Regions from separate parts of the Homo sapiens genome. Here all the other regions are reported to be linked to region 2. Evidence: microRNA targets listed by miRTarBase, many of them from high-throughput screens and not tested one by one. Region 2 holds a microRNA gene; each other region holds the end of a gene's coding sequence.

Region 1 (3,006 bases), not on the chromosome of region 2:
GTTGTGTGCCTGGGGGCAGGATCCAGGTAGGGGGAAGACCAGGCTGGATGCAGGGGTTAATAAGTGTCCCCATCACCAAGGTCTCAGTCCCCAGTAAGGAGCCTGGGCTTTCTCCTGAGGTCACTGTGCACCCACAGTAGGTTCTGAGCAAGGGCTGGGCAGGGTCAGGTTTGTGCTTTAGTAGAATAAACTATAAAGTTTCCTCTAGCTGGGCCGGGCAGGGTGGTTCATGTCTGTAATCCCAGCACTTTGGGAGGCTGAGGTGGGCAGATTGCTTGAGGTCGAGACCAGCCTGGCCAACATGGCGAAATCCCGTCTCTATTAAAAATACAAAAAATTAGCCAAGCGTGGTGGTGCATGTCTGTAATCCTAGCTACTCAGGAGGCTGAGACAGGAGAATCACTTGAACCCAGGAGGCAGAGGTTGCAGTGAGCTGAGATCCTACCACTACACTACAGCCTGGGCAACAGAGCAAGATTCTGTCTCAAAGAAAAAAAAGAGTTTCCTCTAGCTGCTAGCTAGAGTGTGAATGGGATGTGGGGAGGGCAGGACCGGGACAGGGGACCAGACAGAACACTGAGCAAGAACACCACAGGGTAAGGAGGGGCATGGAGCAGGTGGAGCAGGTGGTCCCAATGAAGAGGTGAGACCCCCAGGGAGTTGTGGGGGTAGCTGATGGGCCTTGTCAAAGGCTTGGGCGTGGAGCTGTGAGAGGAGGAAGAACCAGGGGTGACGAGGCCAGGAAGTCCAGGTGGCTGGAGAGCCCACCAGTCTCAAGGGGCTGCAGAGCCCTGTACCTCCGGGGTTCCTAGGAGCCTGTCAGTCAGGCCATGGTGCAGAGGCTGGGGTTCCTCCAAGGGCACCGGGGATCCATGGAATGGTATAGAGTTGGGGGGCGGGTAATGGAGACCCATGGCTGCCCTGAGGGATGGGAGACTGCCATGGCCTGTGGACCTGTGGTATGGGGCTCCGAGGGTGCCATCGTCTCCCTGGGGCCTCATGGATCCCCTGACTGGCTCTGCAATATGGGGTGGCAGCTGGAGCCTGAAGGAACCTGGTGTGGTCCTCAGCGTTGGGCCCCCTATCCCAGAAGTGTTGCTGAGACCACCCCCCAAAACAGTAAACCTGGGAATGTAGGGTCCCCAGCCCTCAGAACACAGAGGCCTCGCTCAGCTCACCTATCCAGTGGGCGAAGAGTCCCAGCACCAGGGGCTGGGATGGGAAATCCAACTCATGCCACCTCTGTTGTCAGCACAGGCAGCCCCGGGGATGTGATATGACACCCCAACACTCACAGAGTGCTACAGCCAGCCAACCAGGTGCCACTCAGGCAGGCTGAGCCTTCACCCCCATGCTCCCCAAAATTGGGAGTGGGTGTCAGCGCAAAAAGCCAATGGCACACATTTAGCGTGCCCCAACTGCTGTGCTGAGGCCTCAGGGTGGCAGGTGCTCATGGCGACCCGGCTGAAAGCTGTACTTGGCCCTGCCTGGTGGTGTCGGGTTAGGAGACATTCAGCGGGCACATGGCAGGCTCCAGCCTGCACCCAGCAGGGGCAGCTGGCAGGAAAGGGTATAGGGCAGCGAGCTCCCTGCAAGCAGCTTCCCCAGCAATCTGAAATGAGGCCAGTTAATGAAATCTCAGAGGGCTGGTGGGAGGGCGAGAAGTGAGGAAGAGGCCTGGCCTGGCGGGTATGGCTTTTTTTTTTTTTTTTGAGATGGAATCTTGCTGTGTTGTCCAGGCTGGAGTGCAGTGTGTGATCTGGGCTCACTGCAGCCTCCGCCTCCCGAGTTCAAATGATTCTCCTGCCTCAGCCTCTCGAGTATCTGTGATTACAGGTGCCTGCCAGCATTCCCAATTAATTTTGGTATTTTTAGTAGAGACAGGGTTTCACTATGTTGGCCAGACTGGTCCCAAACTCCTGACCTCAAGTGATCCATCCACTTCAGCCTCCCAAAGTGTTGGGATTATAGGTGTGAGCCACTGCGCCCGGCCAGGTATGGTTCTTGACACAAGGTCACAATCCCCACCTTTACAGGTCCCGTACCGTGTCAGGTCACTCTCCCAGACCCAGGAAAGCCACCTCATCCCTGCTGGAAGCTGTTGTCCAAGGCAACAGAGGAAGGAAGGCACGAGGAGGAGGGGCAGTGCTGAGTTTAAGTTAAACACCCATATGAATTTATTAAATCCAGACTGTGTTAAAGGGCGGCGGTCTAGGAGGGGGAGTGTGGTAGGGGGACGAGGGACAAGATGATGAACGGCCGTGGGCATCCCGTAGGGGGGCCCGGCCCCACCCCCGCCCAACCCACCCCCTCGGCAACGCTGCATCAGCTTCACCATGATTCCCAGTGGTGCTGGGCTGGCAGGGCGAGATGGCTGGAAACACAGAGGGACAGAGGGACAGACAGCGCCTCCACAAACAAACCCTGGCCTGCCCCGGCCCCTACATCACACGCTGGGCCCTGACCTGAGGCGGGCCTCCCACCGCCCCGGCCTGATCTGTCCAGGGAAAGGGCGACAGGGAGGGGAGGCGAGGGGGCCGGGACGCAGGGGTAGTGGTCGCCAGGAGCCGGAGCAGGTGAGGACCAGTCTCGACTAATCCTTTTTCTTGTCCTCTGCTGGCTTTGGAGGGGCTTCCTGGGGCTCGCTGGCAGAGCTGGCCCCCTGGGTGGGCTTGGTGGGCAGGGACGTGGAGGCCTCCTCCCTGGTGGCGGTGGTCGTGGTGGGTGCAGGTGTGGGCGTGAGGGCCCCTGCTGCTGTGGGAACCTCGGCCACGGGGGCGGCAGCTGTGGGGTCTTCTCCACTCATGCCAAACTCGTTGACTCGGGTGGGGTCGACGCGGTAGATCCACCGTTGGTAGAGGTAGATGAAGAAAACCACATCTGGAGAGGGGTGGGAGGCAGTGTGAGGTCGGGCTGGCCCGTCCACAGCCAGGTGGGCCTGGGTGGAGAGGGCGTGATGCAAGGGCGGGGCCGAGCCCCCTCAGACTGAGCACCCCATCTGGGGCC
Region 2 (3,006 bases):
GAAAGGCTGGCTTTTCAAGCACTCTGACTTAGTATAATCCTCACAAAGCTCTAAACCTAGTAATATTCCCCACAATTTTCCTCTCAGCAAAGCCCACGCTTGCTCAGGCTCACCTTGGGAGTGAGGGTCAGTATTTTGCATTATTTTGGTAAATTCTTCATCCATTCGTTCCACCAGAGTTAGGATGCAGCCACGGACACGCAGTGGCTGAAAAGGAAGGCGAAGGAGGAGTCAACAAATTAGCCCAGATCTCAGTCTCAAACCTCAACCCTCGGGTCCCACTGAGCCTTCCCAAAGCATAAAATACACACCTCCAGTTATCCTGCCAACTCCTCCCTTTACCTGGTCAGCGTTGTGCAGGTTCTCACTCTCTTCCAGAATATTCTCTCCAACAAAAATGTTGGGATTTGCAAACAGGATATCCATCAGCTCATTGATGCAGTCCAGGCACTTCCCCCACATCTCTGGCTGCCAAGATTTCAGGCCACATCAGAGTCAGAGGTGTGAAGGTAGAGTAAGCGGATGCCTCCCCCTTCAGCAGGAATCATGGGGCCTTCCACCACCAAGACTGCCTCCATAGCCCCTGAGTCTTAAGATGCTAGGTACCTTCTTCCCCCAACCCACCAGCGATGCCCTGAGATGAGCCTCTTCACTGCTCTCACCTTCATGTAGGTTGCCAGGTTGGGGTTGTAGTCATAGAGAGAGGCGATGATATTGAACTTGATCTTGACAATGACGCCCTCTCCCAGGTTGTTTTCCGCTGCAATCTGAACCAGCAGTTGCAGCAGCTCAATCTGGGCAGCACTAGAGGGCCAGAGAGCTGGGTGAGGCTTTGGAGACAAATCACAAAGTCTCTCCCAGCATGCCCGCTTCGGATAACGCGCCCTCCTCATCACCCATATCCCTGCTTCTCCTTTATAAATTCCAAACAGAAGCAACAATAATCCCAACCATCCTGGAATGCTGTGAAATGCTTCACACCTACCACCATCCTCTGTTACCTAATAACTAAAGAAGGTAAACACTCTTTTACTTTTTTAATCTTAAAAAAAAAAAAAGCCAGGTGTGGTAGCTCATGCCTGTAATCCCAGCACTTTGGGAGGCTGAGGCAGGCGGATCACTTGAAGTCAGGAGTTCGAGACATGGTGAAACCCCATCTCTACTAAAAGTACAAAATCAGCCAGGGATGGTGGCGGGTTCCTGTAATCCCAGCTACTCAGGAGGCTGAGGCAGGAGAATCGGTTGAACCCAGAAGGCAAAAAGGTTGCAGTGAGCCGAGATCGCGCCAGTGCACTCCAGCCTGGGCAACAACGAGACTCCATCTCAAACAAAAAAAAAAAAAAAAAAAAAAAGAGGAGAACATTATCTCATTGTATAGATGGGAAAACAGATCCAAAACGTTAAGTGATTGGTTTTAAGTCACAAGAAGAGTAAACAGCAGATAATGGACGGGGATGCCCCAAGCATACAATTCCCTCTACTACAGCCACACACAGACCCTCCCAACAATCCCTTCCCCCAACCTCCACCCTCTGCCACCCTGCAATCCCACTGCCCAGGCCCACGAATCTTACCGATCAGTTCCCTTCTTGCCTCGTGCCTGTAGGATCTCATTCAGTTTCTTGATAACAACAGCATGGGTGATCTCAGTTCCCTTGGCAAACATTTTTGGCTTCTCCTGTATCAGTACATATCCCGTCATGTACATGCCAGCGGGAAACTGTCCTTGCCTTTTCCCCACAAGGGGACCTTTATGTCCTCCCAAACTGTTCCCCAATTCATTTTACCTCTGAAACCCTCACCTTAACCAACGGCACTCCGCCCCGGACCCTTTCCCACTCCCCGCCTTCATTGTCCTCCTCCTCCTCCTCATCCAGGCGCTTGGATTTCCTGTCGTGCTTCTTCTTAGCTTTGTCCTCCCGTTTCTTCTCGGCTGCCTTCTTGTCCTCATCTGTGGTGGGTGCCCTGCCGACAGACATGGGAGAAGATGACAGATCAGCCCCTCCCCACCTCTAAGGCTTCTTCCTCCCATCAACTTCCTCTTTTCCTCCAGCAGCTCCTGGGTCCAAGTTATGCTCTACAACAATGACCTAGAGGGCACAGTGAACCATAACCATAGCCATCTCTAACAAGACAGAGTACTAACCAGGCCACTGTAGACATATTAATAGAAACAACCTGTCAGCTAAGCATGGTAGATCACTTGATGTCAGGAATCCAAGACCAGCCTGGGCAACATGGTGGAACCCCATCTCTACTAAAAGTACAAAAATTAGCCAGGCATGGTGGTGCACGCCTGTAGTCCCAGCTACTTAGGAGGCTGAGGCACGAGAATCACTTGAACTTGGGAGGCAGAGAAGGCTGCAGTGAGCCACAATCATGCCACTGCACTTAAGCCGGGGTGACAGAGCAAGACTCAGTCTCCAAAAAAACAAAACAAAACAAAACAAAAAAAAACCAACCTGTCATTTTGCTCCAAAGCTAACATCTACAGTTTTCCAAAGAATCCACAAACAACTTATTTTCTTTGATACCAGCTGCTTTCTCCAGACTGACCAACTAATCAATGAATCAGTTCCCCCAAATATATAAAAACATTTTTTTCTTTTTTACTATTCCTAAACTGTTTTATCGCTTTCTCTCCTCTCTTGACAACCGATTAATCTAAATTCTGAATTTTAAAAAAATGTTCATTACAAAAAAGGTCCCCACAAAACAGAAAAAGATCACCAGCTACCTTAAAATGGTCTTAGGCTACTGGATGTTGCCTGAAACCATCTCCAGACTTGAGTATGTATTTATGTAACAAAATACAAACCAAATGGCAAAGACAAATTACTTCAAACTTTGCACAGATACTGAAGAATAAATCTTTCCAGAAAGACTCAACATTTTTGAAAACTCATATGTAATAACCATAATCTACCATTTGAACATTTATAAATAAATTTCATTTTCACTGCTTAAAAGGTTTGAATATGTTTTTGGAATAGTCTATAAGTTTAC
Region 3 (3,006 bases), not on the chromosome of region 2:
TCAGCTGAAGACCACTGCCTTGCCTGAGGTCACACCCTCTTTCTGGGTGGCCCACATCTAATGACTGGTCAATGAGGGAGTGGAAAGACCTGGCTCTTCACCCCAATTTGGGTCAACTCTGGCTCCCCTGTGGGTTGGCCCAGCCTGTCATTCAGGACTGCATTGCAGCCTGACCTCTCCCTCTGCCCAGATCTGCCTCCCTCTCCATGCTTTTACAAACGTTATCCCAACAGCAGCCCCTCATATCCATCTCACAGGCTAATCTCTGTTTCTGGGGTTCGCAACCCATGCAGCATGTGTGTGTGCATACGTGCACAGCTGTGTCTTACAAGTAGGTGCACACGTGGATATGGGATGTGCATAACCTGCCTCCCCAGGGCCCTCCATCCAAGTGACCTAGAGGCCAGGCCAGTCCCTGTGCTGGCCCAGGCAGGCTCCTGGGGGCTCAGGTCTGAGAGGATATTGGAGATTTGGTGCTGAGCTGGGGCCTGAGGCAGGCAGAGATGCCTTCCTCTCCACATGGTCCAGGAGCGGCTCCTGGGATGGAAGAGATGGTGAAGGAGCAGGCAGCAGGGGCGTGGACTCCTTGGCCCCCTCACACCCTGTATCCACCCTTGGTAGCTCCAGGCAGCTCCATGGAGCCTCAGTCACCTTGGCTCACATCCCTTCCTCCCTGTCCTCCAAGGCTCTTGAGCCTAGAAGGGCTTTTTTTCCAGGCACGGATCTTGCTTTGGCTTGCCTAGAGCAAGCCAAATGCAGGCCATCACTCTACAGCCAGACTACTCCAAGCAGAGGAATCCTGGGATGGTGCAGACACTCTGGCCACCACTCCTCCTAAGGCCCATACGTGGGCTTGTCCTCTCCGCAGGCTGCCAGGGGTCAGAGCAGCAGACATAGCAACAGGTCAGTCTTGGAGAAGAATGGGATTCAGGCAAAGGCGGGGCAGGTAGCACAGCAAGATACCTAGAGGGCACCAGGTGTTACAGAAACATTTATTACAAGGATAAATCAGTACAATAATGGGACCTTAAAACTGCTGTGATGCAGGAGTGGAGGGCTGGGCAGTGCCCGAGGCAGGGGAGGACAGTGGGACAAGGGATGCTCAGTGGTGGAGCCACAGCCCTGGGCTCTGGATGGGGCATGGGAATGACCAGGTTCCCACATCATGCACAGCAGGGGCCTGTAGCTTGAGTCCAGACAGGCCTGCCCACATTGGTGCTGCCCCCCGCCTACCTGGAGATGTCTCTAAAATTCTGGATGTGCCCTAGTGGCTGAGGGTGTTGAGACTGGCACTGAGCAGAGATATCAGTGAAGATGCCCCAGGGGTAACCAGGTACCCACCACTGACCCCCTAGCATTCAGAGATGGGAAAACATCATTGGTCTTTGAGAGACAGGTGTGACGTTCCTCCTTGAGTTGGCAGAACCCTTAGGAATGGCTGTAGTTTGGCTCCAGCCCAGATGTTCCAGGCAGAATCCAAACAGCCTGGAAGCTTCCCATGGAAGGTTCCTGCCACATCCCTGCCTACAAATACAAAGAGTTATGTGACCAAATCCCTTAGATGAATTCTATTCATCCTAGGACTTGCTCAAGGGATACCTCCTCCAGGAAGCCTTCCTAAGCACCGCTGACTACTCAGCAGGCCATTCCTTCCCTGAGTCCCTTCCCTCATCTATACTCACTACTCCCTAGGGTCTCTCCTTGCTGCGTTTTCTGTAGGGCTGGACCTAGGGCCGTGCGCTCAGTGGCTGGTGAGCTGAGGGCACTCTCTGGGTCTAGTCTACTTGTGATGGCACCAGCTCACGGACCCCCAGGCAAAGCCCAGAAAAGGATGATAGGGGCGGGGAGTGGGGGGAGAGTAGGAAGAGTCATGTAGTACAGCAATATTTCAGGACCCTCTATTCTCTGTCATTGCAACTGCCTTTTGCACCCGCATGAAGAAGCTCCAAGAACCTGCCCTTGGTTCAGAGTTTACATACCGAGGCTCCTCTTCCCTATCTAGAATCTACAGTGCCTCACAAGCCCATGCAGAGATAAGCACCCTCTAGAATCAGAGACAGCAAGAGGCCCCCTTGCCTCCACGTATTTCCTTCTTGGCCTGCTGAGGTCTGGGCATGATGGGGCCAGACAGTGGAGTTGGGGGAAGCTCAGGCTGTCCCCAGGTGAAGATCCCTGTGGGCTGAAAGGATTGGGACGGGTCCCCTTGTGCTCTGGGCACCCCCTTTTCTCCCTGTAACCTCCTGCTCTTTCTCTGTGGGGAGGTTGGCAGGGTAGGTGGTGGGCTGGCTGTAGGGCAGGAGATCCTCTAGGGAATGGGCAGAATGGATGGAGCTAGGCCCTGCTGGGATGGCCTGGTGGGCAGCCCTGCCTTCTGTTTCCCGTCTGTAGCCTGGGTTAGAGAGTGGCGCCCCGGGCCCTGCTCTGGGGCTGGGAGCAGCGGGCAAGCAGAAGTGAAGGCTGAGCTCTGCAGGCTGTGGAATGGGGGTCTCCCCCTCAGCAAGCCACTCTCACGGGATCATCTTCAGGGGCCGGGCCTTTCCATAGGGTCTGCAACTCCAAGCCCCACTGCTTCCTCAGGTGGGCAGGGGAGTCAGGATGCAGGCCCTACTGGCTACTAGCCATGACCGTTCTGGGACATGTAAGCTGCCAGAGCCACCACCACAGCCACGTAGAGACCGGCCCCCACGGCGATGGCGAGTGTGGCTAGGAAGAGGGCCCGGCGGGAGGTGGTGCTGGCCAGGCGGAAGTCCCCTTTGGAGATGGCCTTGCTGGTCTAGGGAGAGAGACATGCTGATGAACAGGAGTGTCCCCACACCCAGCCAAACAGCCCAGCCTGCCAGGCCCCTGACCCCATCCTGCAGACGGGATGCCAAGCCCTCCAGTAGAGTGACGGGCCAGAGAAGGGACCTGGGCCCCAGGTGCTCTTACCCCCTGGGAGAAGTAGAAGGCAGCAATGCCCAGTGGCCAGAAGCAGCAGAGCATGGAGAAGAGAGTAAGTCCCAGGTG
Region 4 (3,006 bases), not on the chromosome of region 2:
GGTTTAAGCTCCTCCAGGAGTACGTGTATGAGCACGAGCGGGAAGGGAACACGGAAGAAGACGAACTGGAAGAGGAGGAGGAGGACCTGCAGGCGGCCAGCAAACTGACCCCGGATGATTCGCCTGCGCTGACGCCTCCGTCGCCTTTCCGCGACTCGGTGGCCTCGGGCAGCTCGGTGCCCAGCTCCCCCGTGTCCGAGTCGGTGCTCTGCACCCCTCCCAACGTATCCTACGCCTCTGTCATTCTGCGGGACTACAAGCAAAGCTCTTCCACCCTGTAAGGGGGAAGGGTCCACATAGAAAAGCAAGACAAGCCAGAGATCTCCCACACCTCCAGAGATGTGCAAACAGCTGGGAGGAAAAGCCTGGGAGTGGGGGGCCTCGTCGGGAGGACAGGAGACCGCTGCTGCTGCTGCCGCTACTGCTGCTGCTGCCTTAAGTAGGAAGAGAGGGAAGGACACCAAGCAAAAAATGTTCCAGGCCAGGATTCGGATTCTTGAATTACTCGAAGCCTTCTCTGGGAAGAAAGGGAATTCTGACAAAGCACAATTCCATATGGTATGTAACTTTTATCACAAATCAAATAGTGACATCACAAACATAATGTCCTCTTTTGCACAATTGTGCATAGATATATATATGCCCACACACACTGGGCCATGCTTGCCAAGGAACAGCCCACGTGGACATGCCAGTCGGATCATGAGTTCACCTGATGGCATTCGGAGTGAGCTGGTGGAGCCAGACAGAGCAGGTGCGGGGAAGGGAAGGGCCCAGGCCAGACCCATCCCAAACGGATGATGGGATGATGGGACAGCAGCTCCTTGCTCAGAAGCCCTTCTCCCCGCTGGGCTGACAGACTCCTCATCTTCAGGAGACTCAGGAATGGAGCGGCACAGGGGTCTCTCTTCATCCACTGCAACCCATCCAGTGCCAGCTTTGAGATTGCACTTGAAGAAAGGTGCATGGACCCCCTGCTGCTCTGCAGATTCCCTTTATTTAGGAAAACAGGAATAAGAGCAAAATTATCACCAAAAAGTGCTTCATCAGGCGTGCTACAGGAGGAAGGAGCTAGAAATAGAACAATCCATCAGCATGAGACTTTGAAAAAAAAACACATGATCAGCTTCTCATGTTCCATATTCACTTATTGGCGATTTGGGGAAAAGGCCGGAACAAGAGATTGTTACGAGAGTGGCAGAAACCCTTTTGTAGATTGACTTGTGTTTGTGCCAAGCGGGCTTTCCATTGACCTTCAGTTAAAGAACAAACCATGTGACAAAATTGTTACCTTCCACTTACTGTAGCAAATAATACCTACAAGTTGAACTTCTAAGATGCGTATATGTACAATTTGGTGCCATTATTTCTCCTACGTATTAGAGAAACAAATCCATCTTTGAATCTAATGGTGTACTCATAGCAACTATTACTGGTTTAAATGACAAATAATTCTATCCTATTGTCACTGAAGTCCTTGTAACTAGCGAGTGAATGTGTTCCTGTGTCCTTGTATATGTGCGATCGTAAAATTTGTGCAATGTAATGTCAAATTGACTGGTCAATGTCAACCTAGTAGTCAATCTAACTGCAATTAGAAATTGTCTTTTGAATATACTATATATATTTTTTATGTTCCAATAATGTTTTGTACATCATTGTCATCAATATCTACAGAAGCTCTTTGACGGTTTGAATACTATGGCTCAAGGTTTTCATATGCAGCTCGGATGGACATTTTTCTTCTAAGATGGAACTTATTTTTCAGATATTTTCTGATGTGGAGATATGTTATTAATGAAGTGGTTTGAAAATTTGTTATATTAAAAGTGCACAAAAACTGAGAGTGAAAATAAAAGGTACATTTTATAAGCTTGCACACATTATTAACACATAAGATTGAACAAAGCATTTAGATTATTCCAGGTTATATCATTTTTTTAAAGATTTTCCACAGCTACTTGAGTGTCTAACATACAGTAACATCTAACTCAGCTAATAATTTGTAAAATCTTTATCAATCACATTTTGCCTTCTTTTAATTTTTATGTTCATGGACTTTTATTCCTGTGTCTTGGCTGTCATAACTTTTTATTTCTGCTATTTGCTGTTGTGTAATATCCATGGACATGTAATCCACTTACTCCATCTTTACAATCCCTTTTTACCACCAATAAAAGGATTTTTCTTGCTGTTTTGATTTCTTCTATTATTTGTGGAATGAATTATACCCCCCTTAAATATCTTTGTTTATGCCTTATGTTCAGTCATATTTTAATATGCTTCCTTCATATTGAAGCTGCTGATTTCTCAGCCAAAAATCATCTTAGAATCTTTAAATATCCATTGCATCATTTGTTCAGAATTTAACATCCATTCCAATGTTGGAGGCTTGTATTACTTATATTTCATCATATTCTATTGCCAAGTTTAGTCAGTTCCACACCAAGAATGAACTGCATTTCCTTTAAAAATTATTTTAAAACACCTTTATTGAAAAGATCTCATGACTGAGATGTGGACTTTGGTTCCATGTTTTCATTGTAAGAAAGCAGAGAGCGGAAAATCAATGGCTCCAGTGATTAATAGATGGGTTTTTAGTAATTGACAAATTCATGAGGGAAAGCATATGATCTCTTTATTAGTGAATCATGCTTATTTTTTACTCTTAATGCCACTAATATACATCCCTAATATCACAGGGCTTGTGCATTCAGATTTTTAAAAAATTAGGATAGATAAGGAAACAACTTATATTCAAGTGTAAGATGATATCAGGTTGGTCTAAGACTTTTGGTGAACACGTTCATTCAACTGTGATCACTTTATTACTCTGAATGCCTACTATTATCCTGATTATGGGGTCTCCTGAATAAATAGAGTATTAGTCCTTATGTCATCATTGTTCAAAATTGGAGATGTACACATACATACCCTATACCAAGAGGGCCGAAACTCTTCACCTTGATGTATGTTCTGATACAAGTTGTTCAGCTTCTTGTAAAT

The links. The annotated mature microRNA hsa-miR-6862-5p reads CGGGCAUGCUGGGAGAGACUUU and lies in region 2 at 848-869, opposite strand. An mRNA with a match to its seed (bases 2 to 7 or 8) in the 3' UTR can be bound and repressed. Matches are read on the target gene's strand: a 7mer-m8 pairs with bases 2 to 8, a 7mer-A1 pairs with bases 2 to 7 and ends in A, and an 8mer does both.
Region 1: the mRNA of CLPTM1 is a reported target of hsa-miR-6862-5p. Seed matches in the 3' UTR shown: 7mer-A1 at 2,263-2,269.
Region 3: miRTarBase lists SYNDIG1L as a target of hsa-miR-6862-5p. Seed matches in the 3' UTR shown: 8mer at 2,110-2,117 and 7mer-m8 at 1,137-1,143.
Region 4: miRTarBase lists GRM1 as a target of hsa-miR-6862-5p. Seed matches in the 3' UTR shown: 7mer-A1 at 640-646.

What each region holds. Positions count from the first base shown.
Region 1 is chr19:44,992,485-44,995,490 of GRCh38, reverse strand. It overlaps CLPTM1 (CLPTM1 regulator of GABA type A receptor forward trafficking), which reads right to left. Exons shown (of 14, transcript NM_001294.4): 14 at 2,150-2,880. The coding sequence ends at 2,594. Among named protein-coding and RNA genes, the nearest start is that of RELB, 7.5 kb to the left of the region's middle.
Region 2 is chr16:28,390,178-28,393,183 of GRCh38, forward strand. MIR6862-1 (microRNA 6862-1) reads right to left here and starts at 874; the gene lies at 805-874. It overlaps EIF3CL (eukaryotic translation initiation factor 3 subunit C like), which reads right to left. Exons shown (of 21, transcript NM_001317857.2): 9 at 1,803-1,965; 10 at 1,575-1,678; 11 at 663-804; 12 at 343-468; 13 at 114-207.
Region 3 is chr14:74,404,921-74,407,926 of GRCh38, forward strand. SYNDIG1L (synapse differentiation inducing 1 like) reads right to left here. Exons shown (of 4, transcript NM_001105579.2): 3 at 2,929-3,006; 4 at 979-2,773. The coding sequence ends at 2,615. Among named protein-coding and RNA genes, the nearest start is that of SYNDIG1L, 20 kb to the right of the region's middle. RefSeq lists an enhancer at 2,218-2,719.
Region 4 is chr6:146,434,516-146,437,521 of GRCh38, forward strand. GRM1 (glutamate metabotropic receptor 1) reads left to right here. Exons shown (of 8, transcript NM_001278064.2): 8 at 1-3,006. The coding sequence ends at 281. Among named protein-coding and RNA genes, the nearest start is that of RAB32, 110 kb to the right of the region's middle.